Linked DNA regions of Homo sapiens: region 2 is linked to region 1. The links come from fine-mapping of genetic effects on gene expression. Tissue or cell type: aorta. Region 1 holds a variant in brackets; the other region holds the start of a gene. All regions are shown on one strand. Distances are from middle to middle.

Region 1 (5,368 bases):
GGCCTTCCCTAGACTGTGTGGGGCTCAGCATTGGGAGGGGTTGCACATGTCCCAGCCTTTGGCCCCCTTACTTTTCAGCAAGCCAGGGGCCCAGCAGTCAGCTCCCAGGATGTGTGGGGAGCTGTCCCTGACTCTGCAGGCCTGAGCGAGTGTGTGAGCATGCGGGGACATGGGTGTGTATGGCACACATAGGTGCGTGTGTGTCTTTTGTATTTTTTCTCCTCCAAGGAGCTGTGTCAGTGTGGACGTTCTGTTTCAGGGAGTTGGAAAGGAGGGTGTCTGCAGAAGGTGGAGAGCAGGGGCAGAGGCCCCACTGGCCACCCCCTGCTTCCCAGAGTGAAACCTTGTGCCTGGTGACCAAAGTCCCTCCAAAGTGCTCTTCCTTCTGGGTTATTCAAGCCAAATATCTGGGTTTCCCCCTCTCCTCATTCCCTAGCAAACCCCAATTATCTTCCAAGATAGGAGATATTTCCCATCCCCTTCCTTTGTAAATATCTCATCTCCCACTGGAGAGCCCAGGAGCCTATTCCTGGCATGGATGTTCTGTCCACACTTGAGGCTGGGCGGTGTATCAGACCCTTCAAGCAGCCTGGCTGGGGCCCAGGACTGAGTCTGGGGTCAGCTTTCACGGTCGCTTTTCCCTTCCTCACCACCCACCACAGCCCACCTTGCATGCATGGCCAGCCCCTCCACTCCAGCCTGAGCCATGTGTGCCCCTGCGGGAGGACCCATTCATGCCAGAAAGCTGGTAACTCCCTCCCAGCATCCCTGCGGAAGGAGTCAGTTTCTGAGAGTGTGACTTTTCAAGGCGAATGATGGGGAAGGGTTCCCCAGTCCCCACAGTGGCCCCACCTCTGGGCCCTGCACCAGAGCCCTTCTGTGTCACGGCGGGCTGTGCACCCATGCACACACCTACGCACACACAACACTCCGCACTGCAGTATATTCTTGCCAAAGATTTCCTTTAAAAGCAAGCACTTTTACTAATTATTATTTTGTAAATGTTTATCTTCTTCTGTCTTCTCCCTCCCTGAATCTATTTTACTGTTGTTTATTGTTGAATCTGTGTGTCAGCCAGGAGAGCGCTGTCTGGCCTTGAACATGGGCTGGGATGGGAAAGGGTCTGGGAGAAGATGGGCAACAAAGAGCCAGGGAGTCATGGACATCGCAGCGACGCAGACCCCAGCAGGTTCAGTCCCGTGCTGCCACCAGCTGTCCAGCTGGGTGTCTGGAGGGAAGAGGGCAGAGGAGGGTCATGTCCCTTCAGCTGGGGGAGGGGCCCAGTGAGCTCCACGTGGCTTTTTCCCAAAGGGAGCAAGAGGGAAGGATTGGGCGAGAAAACAATGGAGAGGGGACCTGCGAAGGAAAACAGGGAGGAAGTGAGCGGTTTGATCAGCCTGCTATCACGGTGTTCTGGCTCTCTTATTTAGCCAGGCGCTTAAGGGACAGATACATCACATCCTAAGTTTGGGAAAGGCCTTTGACCCATGTCATCTGAGCGTCTCCTCCAGTAGCTCTGAAAGCTGTGGACACCAATGGCCAGGATTCCTTCTCCCCTGGTTTTTGAGGATCCCTGGGTCTTCTGAGACTGGCCAGGAGAGGGATGGTGGGGCCAGTGGTTGTGTGAAAGCAGGAGGGGCAGCCCTCCTGGACAAGTGTGATCCCCCTATAAACGGCTCTCAGGAGGTTAGTGAGTAGGAGATTCTGCCTTGTTCTGATGAGCCTGTGCAGGGGCTCCAGGGGAGCATGCTGTCCAGGGGGCACAGAAGGGTGGTGAGTGTGATCAAATCTAGTCTCACTCCCACTTTTTAGTCTCACTCCTACTTTTGTCCACCACCCCTGCCTCCTGGATCTTCTCCCACTTTTTTTTTCAGCTTTAGGACCTGGGGAGATCCTGTGAGTCAAGGCAGACACCCAATCCTGCCCCCACACTCGGGGTCCTCCAAGAGGTTGGGGGGCAGAGTCCCAGAGCAGCCCTTTACCCCAGGTCCAGGCCCTGGAATCCTGAGACTCGCGTTTCCTTGGCCAGTGGTAACACAGGACGTGTGTGCGCATGTGCAAGTGTGGATGTATGTGTGTGCGTGTGTTTTGCTCATTTCTTTAGGGAACTTGGGAGTCGGGGTTGGAGGTGCTGGGCAATGGAACTTCAAATTCAATGTCGCCCAGCAGTGAGGGGAGTCGGGAGGTGAGGCCTGTAGGCCAACCAATTGGTGGAGTCTCAGCGATAGCCCAGGTGAGAAGTGGTTCACCCAGAGGGGCAGGGTGGGGGCCTCGGGCAGATCTGTCCCTCTTGGCACCTCTGTCCTCAAATGTCCAAAATGTTGGAGGACCTCTGTTCATATCCCACGCCTGGGCTCTTGCCAGCAGTGGAGTTACTGTAGAGGGATGTCCCAAGCTTGTTTTCCAATCAGTGTTAAGCTGTTTGAAACTCTCCTGTGTCTGTGTTTTGTTTGTGCGTGTGTGTGAGAGCACATCAGTGTGTGCAGGCTGTGTTTCCCCATTTCTCTCCTCCCTTCAGACCCATCATTGAGAACAAATGTAAGAAATCCCTTCCCACCACCCTCCCTGCCTCCCAGGCCCTCTGCGGGGGAAACAAGATCACCCAGCATCCTTCCCCACCCCAGCTGTGTATTTATATAGATGGAAATATACTTTATATTTTGTATCATCGTGCCTATAGCCGCTGCCACCGTGTATAAATCCTGGTGT[A/C]TGCTCCTTATCCTGGACATGAATGTATTGTACACTGACGCGTCCCCACTCCTGTACAGCTGCTTTGTTTCTTTGCAATGCATTGTATGGCTTTATAAATGATAAAGTTAAAGAAAACTCTGTGCCGTTATCTATCTGTGTTGTTCGGACAGGGGTCTGCCATGTCTCTGGTGGGCAAAAAGGGGCCTCTCCAGAGATCCAGGTGGGCTTCAGCGATGCCTCTAGTGGACAGCTCAAATCCTCCCAGCGGCCTCCCCACCATCTGCGTGGTGGTTCTGGTTCCCTGTGTTTATTCATTTGGACTCTTTCAGCTGCAAGAGAAACTCAACTCAAACTTGTTTAAGAAAAAGATAAGTTTCTTGGCCCGAGTGACTGAGAAGGCCAGGCCTAGCTGCATTTAAGGGCTCAAATGGTAGAATCTGGAATTCATCCCCATCACTTGGTTCTGAGTTGGCTTAACTTTCAGGTAAGCTGTATCTGAGTGGCGGTGCCCCCAGATGCTCTGGGCTTCCATCCCACCAGCTCGGTAGCTCTAGGAGAAAGGGGGGCTCTTTTCTCCCAATGTTCTCAGCAAGAAACTGGGACATGCGATCATTGGCTGTGATCTGGATCCTGCCTGGCTCATATGATTAACTCGAAACCAATCATTCTATCCGGATCTGGGTCACGCAACTGCCTCTGGAGCCTTCTGAAACTACGGGGACTGAGAATGGGGAAGTGGTTGATCCCGGAAGGAGTGAGGTCTGTCAGAGACAGGGGGAACACGGGTTGTCAGGCAACATCTATTGGGGCCTGTGCCCATCAAGTGGCAAATGTGTGGTTCACTCGTGCACTAGGCCCAGGGCTCCTGGGCAAATTCTTTGGAATTCAGAAAGTTTGGGGGTGGGACCTATTGAGACATGCCTAGCACAGCACAGGGGTCTCTGGGAGATCCAAAATACTCAGTGACGTGGTGCTAGCTCTCCACTGAGCTCACCATGTGGCTGGAGGAGGCTCAGATCAGCTTATTTGAGCAGGTTTGTGCTGAGCCCCCTCAGTGACCCTCACGGTCCTCGTGTGGGCAGCCTTCTCAAGCTTTTGGGTCTTGGGATTCCTTTACATTCTTAAAATTATTCAGGACCCCAAAGGGCTTTTGTTTAGAAGGATTATATCTTTTGATCTTTTACCATAGTATAAATTAAAACTGAGAACATTAAAAATACTTAATTCACTTCCATAGTGATAAATTCATCACATGTTAATATAGAGAGCATTTTTGTGAGAAATAATATTTTCTAAAACAAAAAGCACTGGGTGAGAAGGTGACTTTGCTTTGCATTATTATTATTATTATTTTTGAGACGGGGTCTTGCTCTGTCGCCCAGGCTGGAGTGTAGTGGCACAATCATAGCTCGCTATGACTAGCCTCCACCTCCTGGGTTCAAGTGATCCTCCCACCTCAGCCCCCAAGGAGCTGGGACCACAGGTGTGCGCCACCACACCTGGCTAATTTTTTAATTTTTTTTTTTGTACAAAAGAGGTTTCACTATGCTGCTCAGGCTGGTCTCGAACTCCCGGGCTCAAGCAATCCTCTCTCCTTGGCCTCCCAAAGTGCTGGGATAACAGGCGTGAGCCACCATGTGCTTTGCAGTTTTTAAAGGCCTAATCATGTCTGGCTTAGCAGGAGATAGCTGGATTCTTATATAAGCTTCTGCATACAATCTGTTGCAATATCACCCATCATGGGCCTCTGGAAAACACTGTATACTTGTGGGAAAATGAGCAAAAAAAAGTCAAATAATGGCTTAATAGCATTATGAAAATGGTTTTGACCTCAACACTCCTGAAAGGGTCTCAGGGACCCCTGGGGTCCCCGGATCATACTTTGAAATCTGTTGCTATGAGGGATACAAGACACAGGAAACTCAGACCCTGTCCAAGGTGGAGACTGAACATGTCTTGCACCCTGCTCTCTGTTAGGTATCGTCATGCTGAGTCATCCCAACAAACCCATGAGGTAGGCGCTGTTATACACAGGGACAAGTAAGGAAACCGAGGCTCTGAGAGGTCACACAGTTTCTAGCTGGCAGAACTTGTACTCAGCATCACCACCACCGGTGAAGGCTGGCACTCAGCCAACACCTGCTACGTGCCAGAGAGCCTGTGCTAAGCACTTGGGTATCATTTCTCACGCACGTGCACCTGAGAGGTAAGGGCTATCCTTGTCCTCATTTCACAGTTGAAGAAACTGGAGTTCAAAGAGGTGAAGACACTTACTCAAAATCACAGAGTTGGGGTAAGTGGCCCAGCCAGGCTACGAACCCAGGTGAGCTGACTTCTCAGCCAGGCTCTTCCTAGCTCTTGCCTCTTTCTCTGCTCTCAGGGCTGGCTTCTGAGGGGAGAGACAGACTCTGATGAGCCATGGGCAAGTGGGAAGCCAAACTGATGTCACTGGTCAGATAGGGGGTCACGGGCTAGACTGTAGGCTGGCTTCCCAGGGTGTGGACCAGGGCTCCTGGGTGTGTGATGGGGGAGGTCAGGAGGTCATCCCCTGACACTGGCCAGCTGCAGAGGGATGTAGGTACCTCAGGGGTGGGCCTGGTACAGGGGAGGAGTGTCTGATGAGAGAGACAAGCTACGGCCTGTGAGCCGAGCTGATGCAGCTGGCCTTTCAGGGGAC
Region 2 (5,368 bases), 9.3 kb after region 1:
GGAGTTGGTCAGGCAAAGAGGGAAGAAAGGGTGTTTCAGGCAGAGGGAACAGCACATGCCGAGGCCCAGGGGCAGGAGAGTCTTCATGCCTCTGAACCCCACGTACACTCCCTTGATAGCACATTTCACAGTTGTAATTTGACATGAATTTGAAGGCAGGACAGACTCGTGGTTGAATGCACAGGCTATGATGTCAGACTACATGAGTTCAAATTCTGGCTCCATGCCTACTAGCTGTGTGACCTTGGGCAAGTTGCTTGACCCTGCTGTGCTTGTTTCCACATCTGTAAAATGTGGGGTGATAACAGTAACACCTAACTCAGAGGGTTGTAGGAGTTGATAATTTATGTAGGCAAAAACAGCTCAGACAGCACCTGGCAGGTAGTAAGTGCTCAGTAAATGTTAGCTATGCTTATTTATTTATGTGAACTTCTTTTTTTCTTTCTCCCTCACTAGACTGTAAAGTCTGCAAGAGCAAGGCTCCAGGTCTGTATGTGTGAAGTCCCAGCACAGTGTCTGGCCTGTGGAAGACCCTTGATCAATGTTTGTAGAGGGAGTGAGGGGACTGCAAGGTCAGTGTGGGCAAAGGGAGCCAGGGGGAGGTGGGGAGGGTTTGGGGAGGTGGGAGGGTTGGGGGAGGTGGGGAGGGTTGGGCTAGAGAGGCTGGGTAAGCTAGGCAGGGCTTTGCAGGCCACAGGAAGGGTTTGGTGTTTGTAGTTAGAGCAGTGGGAATGTTTGAAGATTCTGAATCAAGGGGGCAGGGGATCTGGTTGGTATTTTGTAAAGATGACTGGGCTGTCAGTTTCAACATCAACTGAACCCCAAGTATATGTCAATGTTATATTAGGTGCTTTGTTAAATGCTATTTCATTCATTTTATAAAATGATTGTGGGAAATAGGCAGACAGCTAAGAAAATGAAAGCTCAGAAGGATTAAGTAGTTTGCTCCAAATCTCATAGCTGGAAAGTGCTATAGAAATGGACTGAAGATCTCTTGTTTTTGTTTTTTATAGAGACAGGGTCTTGCTCCATTGCCCAGGCTGGAGTGCAGTGGTGCAATCATAGCTCACTGCAGCTTTGTCCTCCTGGGCTCAAGAAATTGTCCCACCTCAGCCCCCTGAATAGCTGGGACTTACAGGTGTGTGTCACGATGCCCAGCTAATTTTTTCAATTTTTTTTTTTTTGTAGCAGAGATGAGGTCTTGCTAGGTTGCCCAGGCTGGTCTTGAACTCCCAAGCTCAAGTGATCCTCCTGCCTCAGCCTCCCAAAGTGTTGAGATTACAGGCGTGAGCCACTGTACCTGGCTTGAAGATCTCTTTAGCTCTGTATCAGTTAGAATATTAGTGCAGCTTCTATAACAAAGACTTTGAATTACCAAACACTTAAATGTGGCCATTTGTTTTTGTCTTACTTGTATTATAGCTCTCCCCTATGAAATTAGTCAGGACCCCAGGGCCCTTCAATTTGATCGCCCTGCCATCCTCAATATGTGGTCCATTATGGTTGCTCCAGCTCCTGCCATTACAACTGCATTCTAGTCAGTGAAAAGCAGGAAAAGAGGAAGGAGAGGGCGTGCCCTTCTCTTTAAGGATGTGGTACATTTACAGTATATACATTGTTTCTGCTCAGATCACAATAGCCAGAACTGTCACATGGCCTCAACTAGCTGCTGGGAAATGCCATTTTTATACCTTGCAGCCATGAGTACAGCCATACTTCTGGGGAGTTATTAGTAAAGGAGGAGAGGAGAGTGGGTATTGGGAACAACTGGAAATTTCTGATTCATACTCCAACATGTGCTGGAGGGAAAGATTTAAGAGTTATATTAGATACCATATGGGGAGGGGGTAGCTGAACAGCTTGAGTCCCCCTCTTTCATGGGAAGGGGGGGATGTGTAGGGATGGGTACCAGGGGCCATGTCAGTGTATTGAGATATCTTGACCACTTCCTCCAGTCATACTGCAGACTGGTCCAGGGATGAGTTCGTGACTCAAGTTGGGTCAGTTCAAATGCCCCCCTTGGACTGGAGAAAGAGAATGAGAAAGGGTCTGGGGTTGGGGTGGGTGGCTGCATGGAGTTCTCAACATTATCTCCAGGGAGGTGACTGCCTCTCTGCATGGCCTCTGTCCTCGTGCTTACTCCTCTGCAAGGTCAATCTGTCCATTCCCCTGTATCTCGGGCACAGAGGACAAGGCCTGAGGCTGCAGGGCAGAGCTTTCTATGCTCCATGTGTGGAGTCTAGAGACTGCAGAAAGAGCAGCTTAACTCACAGGGCCACCCAGACTAGACGGTGGACATCTCTGAGGACAACAGACTGGATGACCAGGTGGGCCTGTCTCCAGGCCTTGGTGCTATCTAAGCTCCAAGTGTTAGATACAACCTAAAGTTTCTTGCTAGTGCTGCAGAGAGGGTTGTGTGATGTAGAAAATAGAGACATAGGAATATTGCTGTGCCTTTGCAGGCTGTGAGTCATCCTGACACAGAGGTACTGTAGACAGAGGAGAGTCGTGGGTGGAAGCAGGGGAACATTGCTGTGTAAGGAGAAGGGAAGGAGAGGAGGAGAAGGTCCTGTGAAGAAGACAGAGGTCTCAGAGAGGAAGGAGGAGGACCTAGAAGGGGTGGTGTTTTGATGGGGAAAGGAGCTTTTCTTCTTTTCTAGAAGGAAAGAATGGCTGGTCAACAGTCCAGCCACCACCTTAGGATCAAAGTTAGTGAGCCCCAGAAGAAGGACACTGAATTTGGCCACAAAGAAATCATCCTTGTCCTTTTCTTTGGGAAAAGAGCGACAGCATCAGTAGGGGGCAGGAGGCTGAGGAAGTGGCTTAGCACAGCGTCAGGCTCATGAAAGTCTCACGAGATTTGTAGAGTTGGTGAACTGATGAGTGAATAGGAAGTAGAGACACAGCAAGTATAGACAGCTCGGAAGACCTTGACCCCCACCCACCCCAATCGACGTGTTTTCCTGGGCTTTACTCTTTGCTTCCGTTAGTCACTTTGGCCAAGGTTTCTCCTGCGTAGACGTCAGGATGGCGAGGACAGAGGCCAGGAAGGAAGGAGATGTGTCCCAGAAAGCTGAAGCCCCCTCCTGGGGCAGCCTTTTGGAAGGAGCTTCTGATACCTAACCTGGATCATTCCTGCTGCAGTATCAGCAGGTGTCAGCCGGGGAAGGAGAAGCCTTCTGTGAATGACAGTCCTTCAGATGACTAAAAACAGCTGAACTCTATCCCAAGCAGATATAAGAGAGGTGGAGATCAGGTGAGAGCCGCAGCTGGGTGGAATTCAGGGCAGCGTCAGCGTTCTGTGTGTGCCTGGTGCTGGGTTACAGCCGTCTCACTGCGCTTCCTCTTCTCCGATTCCTGCTCCAGGATCTCACCCTCCCCAGCCTCTAATAACCCCAAATCCTGGATTGGTGTTTGGGAGACCGTGGCTGGCCAGGTAAACAGGGCAGGCCGGGAGCAACAGCAGACACTGGAGGGAGGGAGTCGGGCCCTCCTCTGGATGAGTATTTGGGACCGGCAGGAAGGGCAGGTGGGGGAGGCTGAGTTCGAGGTTTCCCCCTTGGGGTCTCCTCTCTCCTGTTTCCAGTCTCCCCCGTCTCCCTTTTCAGCGCCTCCTCCCTTCCAGCCCATCCTGTCTGCATTTGCCCTCTGCCTTCCCTCCTCTCTGTCCCTCCGTTTCCCATCTCATCTGCCTTCTGTCTCCCAGGCAGCCTCCCCCAAGGCCCCACCCCGCTGAGGCACCTGTAGGCAGGGTTTCGGCAGGAGCTGCTGCCAGTGGTCCTCAGGGGAGGATGGACCTCCCTTTTCAAGAACTTCTGAAAACAGGAGGGGCCTAAACTTGGACTGGGGAGAGCTAAGGGAGGACTTTGGGATGTCCATACAGGCAGGGATTCTGTGACCCTTTGGTTTTCTTCTCCCCCGCCAGTTAAGGCAGAGCTGCCACGGGCTACGGCTCCCTCTAGTGGCCAACTTGGGAACCGCAGCCACTCATTGCCTTTCCTGGAAGCGGTCACAGTGGGCAGTAGGCTGAATCAACTGTCCAAGGGCCTGAGAGGCACAATTAATAGACAGCTGGAAGCCGAGAGTCTTCAGGTACTTAGAGACAGGCTGATTATTAAAAGCTTCAGTACAGCGGTGAGGACGGAGACCCACAGTCTCTGTTCCCATTATCAATCATCCCTCGTGGCGGATTGGACCTGGCCCAGATTTTCTCAATCATTTCTCAATGACCACCACTCAGGCAGTCAGCAGTGGCAGGAGCCAGAGAGCTCCAGGGCTCCAGGGTGTGGCTCAGCAGAAGGGGCACTGGACACAACGGGGCCTAGGCAAGATCCTTCCCCTCTCAAAACCCCCATGTCCCGTTCTTTGGGCCTTTGGGACCTGGGTGTCTCTGGGCTGCCCTCTCACAGCCCTGCATAGCCCATGCCCTAGTGCTTGCTCGCTGAGTCTGCAAGGCCAACCTGTCCATTCCCCTGCAGCCGGCCTGCTGCTTGGCAGGGCAGGTGAGCGCCTCTCCTGTGGCAGACGGTGCAGTGTTCAGCTCCACTGGACCTTTCGGGTGATTTGACCTCTGGAAGTTCTATTCCACTCACTCTTGCTTCTCCCCTTCCAAGTGACTACATTCCTAGAGGTTCTAGCACCTGCGGAGATGGAAACAGCTGCTCCCCATCCTCCGGGATCTGGGTCAGAGAACCTGAAATGCAGGCATCTTTATTTCCCAGACTCAGTTATTAGACTTCCCTCTTTTTCAGAGTCAATGACCCCCACAAAAAGAGTGAGCATGAACATCAACCTTTCTCCAAGGACACCCAGGCTCTGATTTCACTGAACTACCCCAAGTCTCTATGAACGTGGAACTGAATCTGACTGATTGAAAGTAAAATTAAAAAGTAAATAGTCCTCTTTTCCCTAAAAGGAGTGGTAGTGGGTGCTTCTGCAGAGGTAGGATCAAAGCACTGAGAAGCCTATTAGAAAACAAGGACAGTAAAACACTCTCTTTTACCTGCAGGCAGAACATGGGGGCAGAGTGCCCAGGCAGAGCAGGATTTGCCTTCACATCCATCCAATATGGGCCCAAGTGTCAGCTTTGCTAGTTTCTCACTTATGTGATCCCGGACAAATTATTTGACCTCTTGTTGCCTCAGTTTCTTCGTCTATAAAATGGGCCAGTAATAACTAGCTGACAAAGTTATGTGGATATTCACAATTCTGTGTATAGAATGCCGAGCACAGTGCTCATGTGACATGGTGGGAGGCAAGTAACATTTACTGGCTGTCTATGATACTGTTGGGCCCTGCATGAGATGCACAGGATGTCACTTACAAAAAACTCAAAATGGTGGCCGTGATCACTCCCATTTCACAGATT

Which allele goes with the higher level. Alleles are on the strand shown, and positions count from the first base shown. SD is a standard deviation of normalised expression in the study named.
For the expression in aorta of the gene that starts at base 2,897 in region 2, C is the high allele of the variant in region 1 and A is the other (moderate effect, 0.43 SD a copy in GTEx).

The links. PIP is the estimated chance that this variant, and not a neighbour inherited with it, causes the effect.
Region 2: DIRC3 starts here. The variant in region 1 is fine-mapped to the expression of DIRC3 in aorta (GTEx, PIP above 0.99). The same link has a PIP of 0.9 or more in sigmoid colon and tibial artery.

The regions. Positions count from the first base shown.
Region 1 is chr2:217,797,252-217,802,619 of GRCh38, reverse strand. It overlaps TNS1 (tensin 1), which reads left to right. Exons shown (of 33, transcript NM_001387777.1): 33 at 1-2,829. Among named protein-coding and RNA genes, the nearest start is that of DIRC3, 9.5 kb to the right of the region's middle. RefSeq lists enhancers at 3,261-3,310, 3,341-3,410. The variant A/C (reference allele first, on the strand shown) is at 2,710.
Region 2 is chr2:217,787,972-217,793,339 of GRCh38, reverse strand. DIRC3 (disrupted in renal carcinoma 3) reads left to right here and starts at 2,897. Exons shown (of 13, transcript NR_186301.1): 1 at 2,897-3,256.